Regions from separate parts of the Homo sapiens genome. Here all the other regions are linked to region 2. The links come from fine-mapping of genetic effects on gene expression. A gene starts in region 2. Each other region holds a variant in brackets. All regions are shown on one strand. Distances are from middle to middle. Region 1 overlaps VPS35L (VPS35 endosomal protein sorting factor like). Region 2 holds the start of VPS35L (VPS35 endosomal protein sorting factor like). Region 3 overlaps VPS35L (VPS35 endosomal protein sorting factor like).

Region 1 (4,000 bases), 39 kb after region 2:
TTTTGGAGCCAGGTAGAAAGGTTTAGACTGAAGAGAATAACCTGGAGGAGCAGGAGGCCCCTGTGCTGCTTGGCAGTGGTTGGTTAGGCCAGAACATCGTGCCATTAGCAGTTTGCTCAAACCATGCAGCCCTCTAAGCTGTATATGATGTGCCCCACAGCAAGGCACCCCACCAGAACCAGGAAATAGGGGCGCCTTCTGAGAGCTGAACACGTGGAAGATCAGAACAGAGACATTCACTGTCTTACAGGGACTAATGGGCTCCCAACCCAGCAAATCTTATCTGTAAACCCATCGAAAGATACAATGTGTCAGAAAGCAGACTATCAATCTGAGAGACTCATTCATTTCTGTGCATCCCAGTCCTGTCCAAGAGACCGGAGGCCTGAGTGCGCTAGCTAAAACAAGTGACAAGAAAGCTAACTAACCTTGAAAAAGTGGGTCTTTATTGGCTTATGCTGAAAAGTCCAGGGGTAGTTTGGCTTCAGGTGCAGCTGGATCCAGGAACCCAAACAGTGTCATTAAGACCTTGCCCTTGGGCCGGGCATGGTGGCTCATCACACTTGTAATCCCAACACTTTGGGAGGCCGAGGTGGGTGGATCATCTGCAGTCAGGAGTTCAAGACCAGCCTGGCCAACATGGTGAAACCCCGTCTCTACTAAAAATACAAAAATTAGCTGGGTGTTGTGGTGCACACCTGTAGTCCCAGCTACTTGGGAGGCTGAGGCAGGAGAATTGTTTGAACCCAGGAGGTGGAGATTGCAGTGGGCCAAGATCACGCCACTGCACTCCAGCCTGGGCGACAGGGCGAGACTCCGTCTCCAAAAAAAAAAAAGAAAAGAGAAAAAAAAAGACCTTGCCCTTGGTTGGGTGCATTCTCGAGCTTCACAAGCTGTCCTCAGCTTCTGCTAGCTTTATTGCTAGTGGTCCCAGGGCATGGAAAGAGCTACTTTCTCCAAGCATTCCCACAGAAGTTTCAGAATCCCATCTTATTGGCCTGGCTTGGATCACATGTCAGTCCCTGAGCCAGTTGTGTTATCTGGGGGATGAAATGCACTGATTATCCAGGCCTGGGTCACCCCAAAACTAAAAGAGTGATACAGTTAGCAGAAGAAAGGGGAGTGGATGCTACCTGGGCAAAAAGAAGAGATGTCCCAGCTGACAGATGAGCCCTGATGGGTTCAGATGGCCCGGAGAGGTGGTATCAGGCTCTCTGCAGGCCACTAGGGAGGTGTCAGCAAACAGAAGGGATAAAAATCCTTGCCTTGGCTAGGCACAGTGGCTCACGCCTATAATCCTACCACTTTTGGAGGCTGAGGTGGTTGGATCACTTCAGGTCAGGAGTGCGAGACCAGACTGGCTAACATGGTGAAACCCCATCTCTACTAAAAATATAAAAATTAGCCAGGCTTGGTGGCAGGCACCTGTAATTCCAGCTACTTGGGAGGATGAAGCAGGAGAATCGCTTGAACCCGGGAGGTGGAAGTTGCAGCGAGCTGAGATCGCGCTGCTGCACTCCAGCCTGTGCCACAGAGCTGAGATTTCGTCTCAAAAAAAAAAAAAAAAAAAAAAAAAAAGAAGAGAAAAAAAATCCTCGCCTTTGTGGTGCTTATGTTTCCAAAAAAGAGAATTTACAAAACAATTAAGTCAACCCAATTGTATGTTAGACAATGATCCATGCTATGGAGAAAACCAGAGTGGGGTGAGGGGGTGAAGAGGAATGGAGGGAATTAGGTGAGGGGGTAGGGGTGCAAGTTTAAGTAAGGTGCTCAGAGGAAGCCTCGTTGAGAGGTTACCTGAGCAGGTGCTTGAAGGCGGTGAGAGGGGAGAGGTGAGCCCTCTGGGTCTGTGGGGTGGAGGCCAGGGGCAGAAGAGGCCAAGGAACAGCTTGTGCGGAGATCCTGGGGTGGGAGCATTGGGAGCATGCCAGGCTGGCCTGAGAACCAAGGAGGCCAAGAGAGAGGCGATGAGATGA[G/C]CCCGGGAGAGGGGCAGAAACTGACATGGTCAGAGATCATGGTGGCCTTGGGGGCCACTGGGAGGACTTGGGCTTTGACTCTGACTCTGAGGACAGGAGGGGCCACCAGAGGGTGTTGAGCAGAGGAGGGAGGTGATCCCACGTGGGATTTAACAGGCTCCGTGTTGAGACTAGACTGTAGGGCGGGGGTAGAGCCCGGAGCCTGTGGCAGCACTTGCGGTGAGAGGCAGGGGTGGCTTGGCCCCGGGAGGCGGTGGAGATGGTGAGGAGAGACCCAGGATGGATGAGGGCTTTAGGTTCTCAGGTTAGATGTCAAATCATACACTGCTGGTCCTTGACGTGTCCATGCACACAGCTTACCTTCGGCGAGTGTGAGGCCCTCATTGGTGGGGAGAGGCTGGTGGCTGTGTCTGGCTCCCCTGGCAGTCTCATTCCTCCCGTGAATTAACCTCTTGGCCGTCTGGTTCCCTCGCCCGCCTCTCCTAAGTTTCTTTTGTATGAGTCAGCTTTCCTGAGCAAGATTAACTCTGAGACACTGATTAGCTCTATCCTGCAAGCCTGGCCAGACCCAGACAGCTCACTCACCTTGCAAGAACTCTGGGCAGCCACTCTGCCAGCTCCTGCCAGCAGCACTCCAGCCCCGTCCTGTACTCCCCGGGCTGTAGTGCAGATGCTGCTGTCCTTGTTGCGTCCCAGAAAACAGCTGGGCTGGGAGTTGGGAACAGCAGTGGTAAACCTTCAACAGATGATGACCTTGGACAGACTGTTTAGGTGCTTTATAGATATTAAGTCCCGGCCAGGCGCAGTGGTTCATGCCTGTAATCCCAGCACTTTGGGAGACCAAGGTGGGTGGACCACAAGGTCAGGAGTTCAAGACCAGCCTGGCCAATATGGTGAAACCTCGTCTCTACTAAAAATACAAAAATTAGCCGGGCATGGTGGTGGGCACCTGTAGTCCCAGCTACTCGGGAAGCTGAGGCAGGAGAAAAAAAAAGATATTAAGTCCCATAATCTGCATAACAGCCCTATGAGATGGGTCTGGTTGTTGTCCCCATTTTATAGATGAGGAACCTGAGGCTTGGAGAAGGAAAGTAGCTTGCCCAGGGTCACCATCATAGTGAATTGCAGAGCTGAGGCTCAACTAGCTCTCTGCAGTCAAAGCACCTACTTTATTTCTCTTTATACATTGCTTATGGGGGAATGCATATACCATTTTTTTTTTTGAGACAGGGTCTCACTTCATTGCCCAGGCCACAGTGCAATGGGGTGATCATGGCTCACTGCAGCCTTGATCTCCTTGACCCAAAGGATCCTCTTGTCTCAGTCTCCCAAGTAACTGGGACCACAGGTGTGTGCCACCATGCCCAGCGAATTTTTTTTTTTTTTTTAGCAATGGGATCTCACTGTGTGGCCCAAGCTGGTCTCAAACTCCTGGAGTCAAGCCATCCTCCCACCTTGGCCTCCCAAAGTGCTGGGATTATAGGCATGAGTCACTGCACCTGGCCTAAATGCATGTACATTTAACCCAACAGTTTCACCTCTGGGAATCTATCCCACCTGTAATAGCAAACTATAAGAAGCAACTCAAGTGGCCATCAATAGGAGCTAGCTCAATAAATTATGGTGTGTCTGTATAGTGGAGTACTAGTGGCTCTGTGAAATGAAAAGGCTGGGCATGGTGGCTCACACTTGTAATCCCAGCACTTTGGGAGGCCAAGGCGGGCAGATCACTTTGAGCTTAGGAATTCGAGACCAGCCTGGGCAACATGGTGAAACCCGTCTTTACTAAAAATACAAAAATTAGCTGTGCGAGGTGGTACGCGCCTGTAATCCCAGCTACTCGGGAGGCTTAGGTGGGGGAATTGCTTGAACCCAGGAGGCAGAGGTTGCAGTGAACTGAGATCAAGCCACTGCACTCCATTCTGGGTGATAAAGTGAGACTCTATCTCAGAAAAACAATCAAACCAACAACAACAACAACAAAACAACAACAAAGAAGGGAAGGAAAGGGCTGGGCATGGTGA
Region 2 (4,119 bases):
CTAACATGGTGAAACCCCGTCTCTACTAAAAATACAAAATTAGCTGGGCGTAGTGGTGCATGCCTGTAGTTCCAGCTACTTGGGAGGCTGAAGCAGGAGAATCGCCTGAGCCTGGGATGGGGAGGCTATAGTGAGCCGAGATTGTGCCACTGCACTGCAGCCTGGGTGACAGAGCAAGACTCCATCTCAAAACAAAACAAAAAAGAAACCGATATTAGCCAGGCATGGTGGTTCACATCTGTAGTCCTAGGTACGCTGGAGGCTGAGGCAGGAGGATCACTTGAACCCAGGAGTTACAGGTGGCAGTGAGCTATAATCGCACCACTGCACTCCAGCCTGAATGAGACTTTGTCTCCAAAACAAAAAAGAAAAAAGAAACAGATATTGAAAAGTATTAGGCCAAAACAAATATTGTATATAATCATTCTTTACAAGTTCCATGAAAGATATATCTCATTATTTAATATGTCCCCTGGGCCAGGTGCAGTGGCTCACGCCTGTAATCCCAACACTTTGGGAGGCCAAGGCGGGAGGATCACCTGAGGTCAGGAGTTTGAGACCAGCCTGGCCAACATAGTGAAACCCCGTCTCTACTAAAAGTTGGACTTTTCAGAAGGTAAAACTCAGGCTGGAAATGTCTTAACTTATTAAGAGATAGAAGCCTGCTAAGGGAAGGAGAGGGAGAAAAGAGAATGCGAAGGTTGAAGCTCACATCAAAGCTGTTAATTTGCACAACTTTAAGAATCCTCCTCTTGTTACTGCCTAATCATGCAGTGTGAGCCTAGGAAAAGGCTCCTCACCTTGACCTCTTATTGAGATGTTGCATGTGATAACATGCATGGCTGTATGGGAAGAGCTCCTTGCTTTCCCGTGGCCACCCTTTAACCCTTGTTCACTTCCAGTGTTGGGAATAGCAGGTACGAGTGGATATACTTTCCTACTCATACTGAGCTGAACACTGGAGGGCCCGTTCTGGAGATGATCCTTTTCCCTGTCATAGGTCACCATCTCATGAACAACCACAGACCACCACCCCCGAATGAAAAGTAAGAGTTATAAAAACATCGAATGCTTTCTCTCTAAGGGACCATAATGGATATCTAAGTAAGTTATAAAAGTAATAATTAAAAAAAAAATTTTTTTTTGAGATGGAGTTTCGCTCTTGTAGCCCAGGCTGGAGTGCAATGGCGCAATCTCGGCTCACTGCAACCTCATCCTCCCGGGTTGGAGCAATTCTCCTGCCTCAGCCTCCCGAGTAGCTGGGATTACAGGCGCCCGCCACCATACCCAACTAGTTTTTGTATTTTTTAGTAGAGACGGGGTTTCACCATGTTGGCCAGGCTGGTCCCGAACTCCTGACATCAGGTGAACCACCCACCTCGGCCTCCCGAAGTTCTGGGATCATAGGCCTGAGCCACCGCTCCCGGCCTAAAATAATTTTTAAAAACGTTCTGTGGTCGAAATGGATATCCACCTTCCTAGAAACACTGCTTTGCCAAGTTGGACGAAATGCGAACCCTAATTTCCCCACGTGCATTAGCTGTAGTCAATCATATTAGATCTAGGGCAGCCCTCGGTTGCTAGTCGTGGGAAGGGCATTCTGCAAGTGTCTAAAACCGCCCGCAAAGCAGTGGGTAAAGCAGCGGCCTAGAGGGGGCATGGCTGTCCCACGCCAAACAGCGTATTAGCCGCAAAACCAGGTACTGGCTGAACCTCAGTTTGCGTCTTCGCTCCGCCGCCTTCTGGAGTCCTTTCTGCCCCTAGAGGACGCAGGTGAGCTAAGCAGCAGTCATGCCCTTTACCATCATGACGCCCGCAGGCGGGACCACCCGGCACTGTAGACAGCTGCCCTTTACAATCATGACTCATAGAAACTACGGCACTCTGGCCGTGGCCGACGTTGCTCCTCCGAAGCATGGCGCCGGCGGGAGTTGTAACCCGGGCTGTCCGGAGCGGGGAGCTGCCCCTCACAAGCATGGCGTCAGCTGAAAATGAAGCCTGTGCTGTGCGGAGCGTCGCCTGCCCCTCACAAGCATGGCGTCTGCAGAAGGTGCTGTGCGGCCGCTGCGGGGCGGCCAGCTGCCCTTCACAAACATGGCGGCCGAGGGGTGCGGGGAGTGGCGGGGTAAGGATGGGAAGCCGAGCAGACGGCCCCAGAACAAGCGGTCATGTGACTGGGAAGATGGCCGTCTTTCCTTGGTAAGGAAGCAGCGGCGGGTGGGCTTTGGAGAGGGGCTGTCCTTACTTGTGATGGGGTCGGCCTGGGTCTGAGAGTGTGAATTCCTCTCTGTCGGGTTCTGGTGGTCGACCGGCCACCCCCAAGTTGTCTTGACCGTAGAATCCCTGGCCGCTACCGCGGTCCAGCGGAGCAATCTGAAGCCAGACTGGCGGGTTCTTGGTTCTCTCCCCGTCTGCTGCCTCTCTGCGCCTTCCACGGGCCCCTGTCCATTCATTCCCTAAAGAAAACTTGAGTTTCCAGGCTTCCGCGTCCCCAGAAGTTGGCGCGGGTTCTGGGGTCGCTGGATGAGGGTAATGGTGGACTCAGCTTTTAAAGTCTGGACGAGTCGGGAGATCTGGCTGTTGGTCAGTTTCCTCAGCTCCTCTGTTCACCTGGAGACTTGCTTTTCTCATCTGTAAAATGGCCGCCATTCATCCTATCCTAGGCACAGCCCTCAGACTTATTCCTTGGCCTCAAGGAGCTGACAGTATAATGGGGCAGACGCACAGTAGAGGGATGTCTAAAGAAGGCATTCGGATGAGGCACCAAGAAGGGAGTGATTATCCCCACCAGGGGGCTAGGGGAAGGCTTCAGAGAGGAGGAGTTAAATTGGGTCTTGGAGGATGAATAGGAGTCCACCATAGGGAGGGCGTGGCGTGTGCCTGGTTGGCAGGCCCGTAGGTCCCTTGTGGTTGGAGTAGCTAGGAATGAGTGACTGAAGCTTCAGGGTTCAGCAGGTGGTATGTGTGTGAGTGAAGAACTTGAGGAAGTTGTGTTGTTGATGATAGTGGGATTTGGGGACGGGGAATCTCTCCTGCATCTCAGAAAGCGAGATAATTTACTTTCTCTTCAAATGATGTGAAGTAGCTTAGATTAAATGAGCAAATGAAAGACCTTAGAAATAATCAGGTACAACCTTCTGCTTTTGAGCTTGATAAACACTTCATTTTGTCTTATTCCTTTCATTTGCCCAACACTTAAGAGACTGCTTCCTTGACACGCTACATCAGCATTGAATGCCTCTGAGCACTTCCACACCCTGAGGTTTTTTTTTTTTTTTCAGTTAATAGTCATGCTGGCTGGGTATGGTGGCTCACGCCTGTAATCCCAGCACTTTGGGAGGCCGAGGCTGGCGGATCACCTGAGGTCAGGGGTTCGAGACCAGCCTGGCCAACATGGCGAAACCTAATCTCTACTAAAAATACAAAAATTAGCTGGGCTAAATTAGTGGTGGCACGCACCTGTAATCCCAGCTACTTGGGAGGGTGAGGCAGGAGAGTCGCTTGAACCTGGGAGGCGGAAGCTGGAGTGAACCGAGATCATGCCACTGCACTCCAGCCTGGGCAACAGTGAGACTCTGTCTCAAAAAAATAATAATAAAAAATGAAAAAGTCATGCTGGCTTGACCAAAAAGCTAACCAAAAACATGAGAAACATTTGACTTCAGTGGATTTATCTGAAGTTTGCAATCAGAAAATCCAGGAAGATGCTGTCTTAATCTCTGCATCCCAGTACATTTCTACCTTTGGAATTTTAATTTTATATTACAAGCAGGCAAACAGGTGCCATAACGCTTTTAGTATTTAGGGTCTCTATAGTTCCTAATATGGCCGTGCTCTAAATATTTTGTTGTTGTTGTTTTTGTTGAGACGGAGTCTCGCCCAGGCTTGATTGCAGTGGCGTGATCTTGGCTCACCGCAACCTCCGCCTCCCGGCTCAAGTGATTCTTTGCCTCACTCTCCCGAGTAGCTGGGATTACAGGCGATGCCACCACACCAGGCTAATTTTTGTATTTTTAGTAGAGACGGTGTTTCATCATGTTGGCCAGGCTGGTCTCGAACTCCTGACCTTAAGTGATCCGCCGACCTCGGGTTCCCAAAGTGCTGGGATTACAGGCGTGA
Region 3 (4,000 bases), 22 kb after region 2:
AACAATGTGAAACTCCATCTCTACTAAAAAAAAAAAAAAAAAAAAAAATTAGCCAGGCATGGTGACAGATGCCTGTAATCCCAGCTACTCAGGAGGCTGAGGCAGGAGAATCGCTTGAACCTGGGAGGCGGAGGTTGCAGTGAGCCAAGATCGTGCCATTGCATTCCATTCTGGGTGACAGAGCGAGACTCTGTCTCAAAAAAAAAAAAAAACAAAAAAAAAAAACAAAGAGGTTACTAGGAGTAAAACGTAAGCTTACTGTTTAAGAATTACAGAGGAAGTAGTCTCCCCCTCATTGTGCCTCCCTCACCAACTGGGTTTTAGAGAGCCTTTCCCTTGCCTTAAGTCTTTTCCCTTGTGCAATAAGGTATGTTGGTGAGGGGGTCACATGCTTAGTCTTATACGTCACTGGTCCCTGAATGCAGTTCTCAGCTTCCTCTCCTAAGACACACAGTCAGAAGCTCTGGACCAGGGTGTCTCAAACTGCCGTGTAGCAGGATTTCCTGAGGAACTTTTGTATGAATATAGATGCCTGGCCCCCACTTGCTCAATTAATCTTGCAGGATGGGACCCCAGAATTCCTATTTTGATGCTCCAAGGGGATTCTGGAGCAACTGACGGATCATGTGCTGCTGGGTGCAGATGAGCACAATCATAGTTCATTGCAGGTCTCTGATATGGCAGCTGCCACTCTCCCCACGGCTCTGCTGGATGAGACAGCACGTTAGAAATCAAGAGAGTGGGAACAGCTTTGTTATGCATAGAATTTTTTTTTTTTTTGAGATGGAATTTTGCTCTGTCACCCATGGTGCAGTGCAACCTCTGCCTCCTGGGTTCAAGCAATTCTCCCACCTCAGCCTTCTGAGTTACTGGGACTATAGGTGTGCACCACCAGGCCCAGCTAATTTTTGTATTTTTAATAGAGACAGGGTTTCACCATGTTGGCCAGGCTGGTCTCAAACTCTTGACCTCAAGTGGTCCACCTGCCTTGGCCTCCCAAAGTGCTGGGATTACAGGTGTGAGCTACCACGCCCAGCTTGTTATGGACAGAATTTTGATCCCAGACCATAAAAGGTAAATCATACCCACCAGTTTGTAAAGATCAAATAGAGTGATGATACCAAGTGTCTTAGTTTGTTTAGTGGTACTATAAAGGAATACCAGAGGCTGGCTAATTTATAAGGAAGAGAGGTTTACTTGACTTATGGTTCCACAGGCTATATAAGAAGCATGGTGCAGCATCTGCTGTTGGTGAGGGCCTCAGGCTGCTTCCACTCATGGTGAAAGCAAATGAGAGCAGGTGTGTGCAGAGATTGCATGGCAAGAGAAGGGAGGAGAGAGAGGGAGAAAATGCCAGGCTTTTTTCAACAGCCAGTTCTCATGGGAAGTAAGAATAACTCATTACTGCACTCATTACTGCAAGGATGGCACCAAGCCGTTCATGGTGGATCCCCCACTACAACCCAGACACCTCCCACCAGGCCCCACCTCCAACACTGGGGATCACATTTCAAAGATGAGACTTTGTATGAATATAGAGCAATAGGAGCTCTCATATGCTGCTGGTGGGAATGTAAAATGGCACAACCACCTTGTAGAACACTTTTGCATTTTTTATTTTATTTGAAGACAGGTGCTGTGGTCTGGTTGTTTGTGCCTAACCCCACTCCCCTGCCCCGATTCATATGTTGAAATCCTAACCCCAAGATGATGGTATTAGGAGATGGGCCCTTTTCAGAGGTGATTAGGTCATGAGGGTGGAACCCTCATGAATGGGATTAGTGCCCTATAAAAGAGGTCCAAGGGCACTCCCCTCACCCCTTCCACCAAGTGAAAACACAGCAGGAGGGCATCATCTATGAACCCAACCGGAAAGCAGGCTGTCATCAGGCACTGGGACCTAATCTGCTGGGACCTTGATCTTGGACTTCCCAGCCTTTAGGACTGCGAGAAATACATTGCTCTTATTTATAAGCCACCCACTTTGTAGCATTTTGTTATAGCAGCTCAAAGGGATTAACACAATGAGCCAACCCTTTGATCCAGCATTCCACTACTAGGGGTATCCCCAGATCAGGGGTTGGTAAACTGCATGCTGCAGGCCAAGTCTGGTCCACTGCCTGTTTTTTAAGTACAGTTTTATAGGAACAGAGCCCTATCAATTTGTTTACATATTATCTATGCCTGCTCTTGTGCTACAACAGTAGAGTTGAGTAGTTGGAGCAGACACTTTGTGACTCTTAAAACCTAAAACATTTGTCAGGCTTACAAAAAGAGTTCTGCAGCTCGACCCTAAGTCCACATTTCTTTCTTTTTT[CTTTTTTT/C]TTTTTTTGAGATGGAGGTTACAGTGAGCCGAGATCGCGCCACCGCACTCCAGCGTGGACGACAGAGTAAGACCCCATCTCAAAAAAAAAAAAATGCTAGAACAGAGGCCCCCTAAAGATGGGGGAAGGATTCTGAAATAGACGGCCGCAGAGGGCAGCAGTCAGCTAGATGCATCGCCCTGCCTTGTGGCTGGCCTGTGGCCTGGGGGCCCTTCCTTCATCCCTCCACCAGTCCCTGCTGATGGCGAAATTGTGCTGACAGATGCTGGAAGGAGGCACAGCTAGTCCTGTTTGCTCGAAGAGAGGGCTTTGAAGCCCTAGTGTTTCCACCCTGGGTAGACAGTGAGATGGTTGTTTTGTTAGCAGGAGAGCACAATTCTACGCTGTGAGTAAGAGCCTAAGAGGGCCTTTTGTTCATAGAAAACAATTAGATGACGGATTTTTGGCATCCTTATCTGGACTGCCTTTCTTTAGGAATAAACAGATGATACAGAGCAAAGTTTGTAAATCTCAAATGCAGCGGTTAACCTCTTTGAGGCTGGCCCACTGGGCTCCCAGGGGCAGCTTCTAAGTGGGAAATGTTTCGATGGAATTCTGGTTACATAAGGAAGTTGCTTTGAAAATCTGGGATAGTTTTCTATAATGGAATCATTCCCTTGTGTCTTTATTCACGATGAAGTGTAGAGTGAAAGATGCCTCCACTGGGGGTATTGGTGCACGAGAAAAGCCACCTGTGTGACGTAAATTCATTCTGTTTAGGCAAAGCTGGGACTGCCACATTGGCAATGTCAGAGAAGGTGCGGACCCGGCTGGAGGAGCTGGATGACTTTGAGGAGGTGAGCAAGTCATTTGTGGAATACAGGGAGTGGGAGAGCTTTTCCTTCCTCCTGCCAAGTGAGATCAACCTCGGTGGCTGCTCTTTGATTAATTCCTGGGCTGCGCATTGTGCTTGGTCCTCTCGAGGCAATGACTCCATCCAGGGAAGGGTGCCAGTGTGCAGTTGGCCGAGCTCACGGAAGCCTGACTGGGGCTGCTTTTCTAGAGGCCTCTTTTCTCATTGTGATGCCTGAGCAAGGCTGGGTCGCCTAGCAACAGTGTCTAATGGTAAAAACCAACTGCAAGGCCAGGCGCGGTGGCTCACGCCTGTAATCCCAGCACTTTGGGAGGCCAAGGCGGGAGGATCACCTGAGGTCAGGAGTTCGAGACCAACCTGGCCAACATGGTGAAACCCTGACTCTACTAAAAATACAAAAATTAGCCAGGCGTGATGGTGGGTGCCTGTAATCCCAGCTACTCGGGAGGCTGAGGCAGGAGAATTGCTTAAACCTGGGAGGCGGAGGTTGCAGTGAGCCAAGATCATGCCACTGCACTCCAGCCTGGGCGAAAGAGCAAGACTTTGTCTAAAAAAAATAACCCAACTGCAGTCACCTCCCTGAGAAGCAGCCTTATATGGAGCACAAAGACCTTGCTTTGCAACAGACGCTGCTCAGGCTGGCTGGATATGGCCCACAGGAATCTTTTAATTGGCCTACATGTACTTTGAAAAAAAAGTGAGTCTTTTGCCAACACTTAAACAGTGGTAAATGTAACCAACAAATACAGAATTTCTTGAAAAAAAAAATCTTTGCCAGGCGCGGTGGCTCATGCCTATAATCCCAGCACTTTAGGAGACCGAG

What was found. PIP is the estimated chance that this variant, and not a neighbour inherited with it, causes the effect. A credible set is the group of variants that fine-mapping cannot tell apart.
Region 1: its variant is the best candidate, but not a certain one, in a credible set for the expression of VPS35L in whole blood (TOPMed, PIP 0.55).
Region 3: its variant is the best candidate, but not a certain one, in a credible set for the expression of VPS35L in whole blood (TOPMed, PIP 0.75).

Annotation. Positions count from the first base shown.
Region 1 is chr16:19,593,094-19,597,093 of GRCh38, forward strand. All of the region lies in intron 8 of VPS35L (VPS35 endosomal protein sorting factor like), which reads left to right. Among named protein-coding and RNA genes, the nearest start is that of VPS35L, 39 kb to the left of the region's middle. The variant G/C (reference allele first, on the strand shown) is at 1,977.
Region 2 is chr16:19,553,548-19,557,666 of GRCh38, forward strand. It overlaps VPS35L (VPS35 endosomal protein sorting factor like), which reads left to right and starts at 2,156. Exons shown (of 31, transcript NM_020314.7): 1 at 2,156-2,199. The coding sequence starts at 2,183. RefSeq lists enhancers at 1,751-2,230, 1,790-2,752, 2,611-2,840.
Region 3 is chr16:19,575,969-19,579,968 of GRCh38, forward strand. It overlaps VPS35L (VPS35 endosomal protein sorting factor like), which reads left to right. Exons shown (of 31, transcript NM_020314.7): 6 at 3,084-3,160. Among named protein-coding and RNA genes, the nearest start is that of VPS35L, 22 kb to the left of the region's middle. The variant CTTTTTTT/C (reference allele first, on the strand shown) is at 2,318.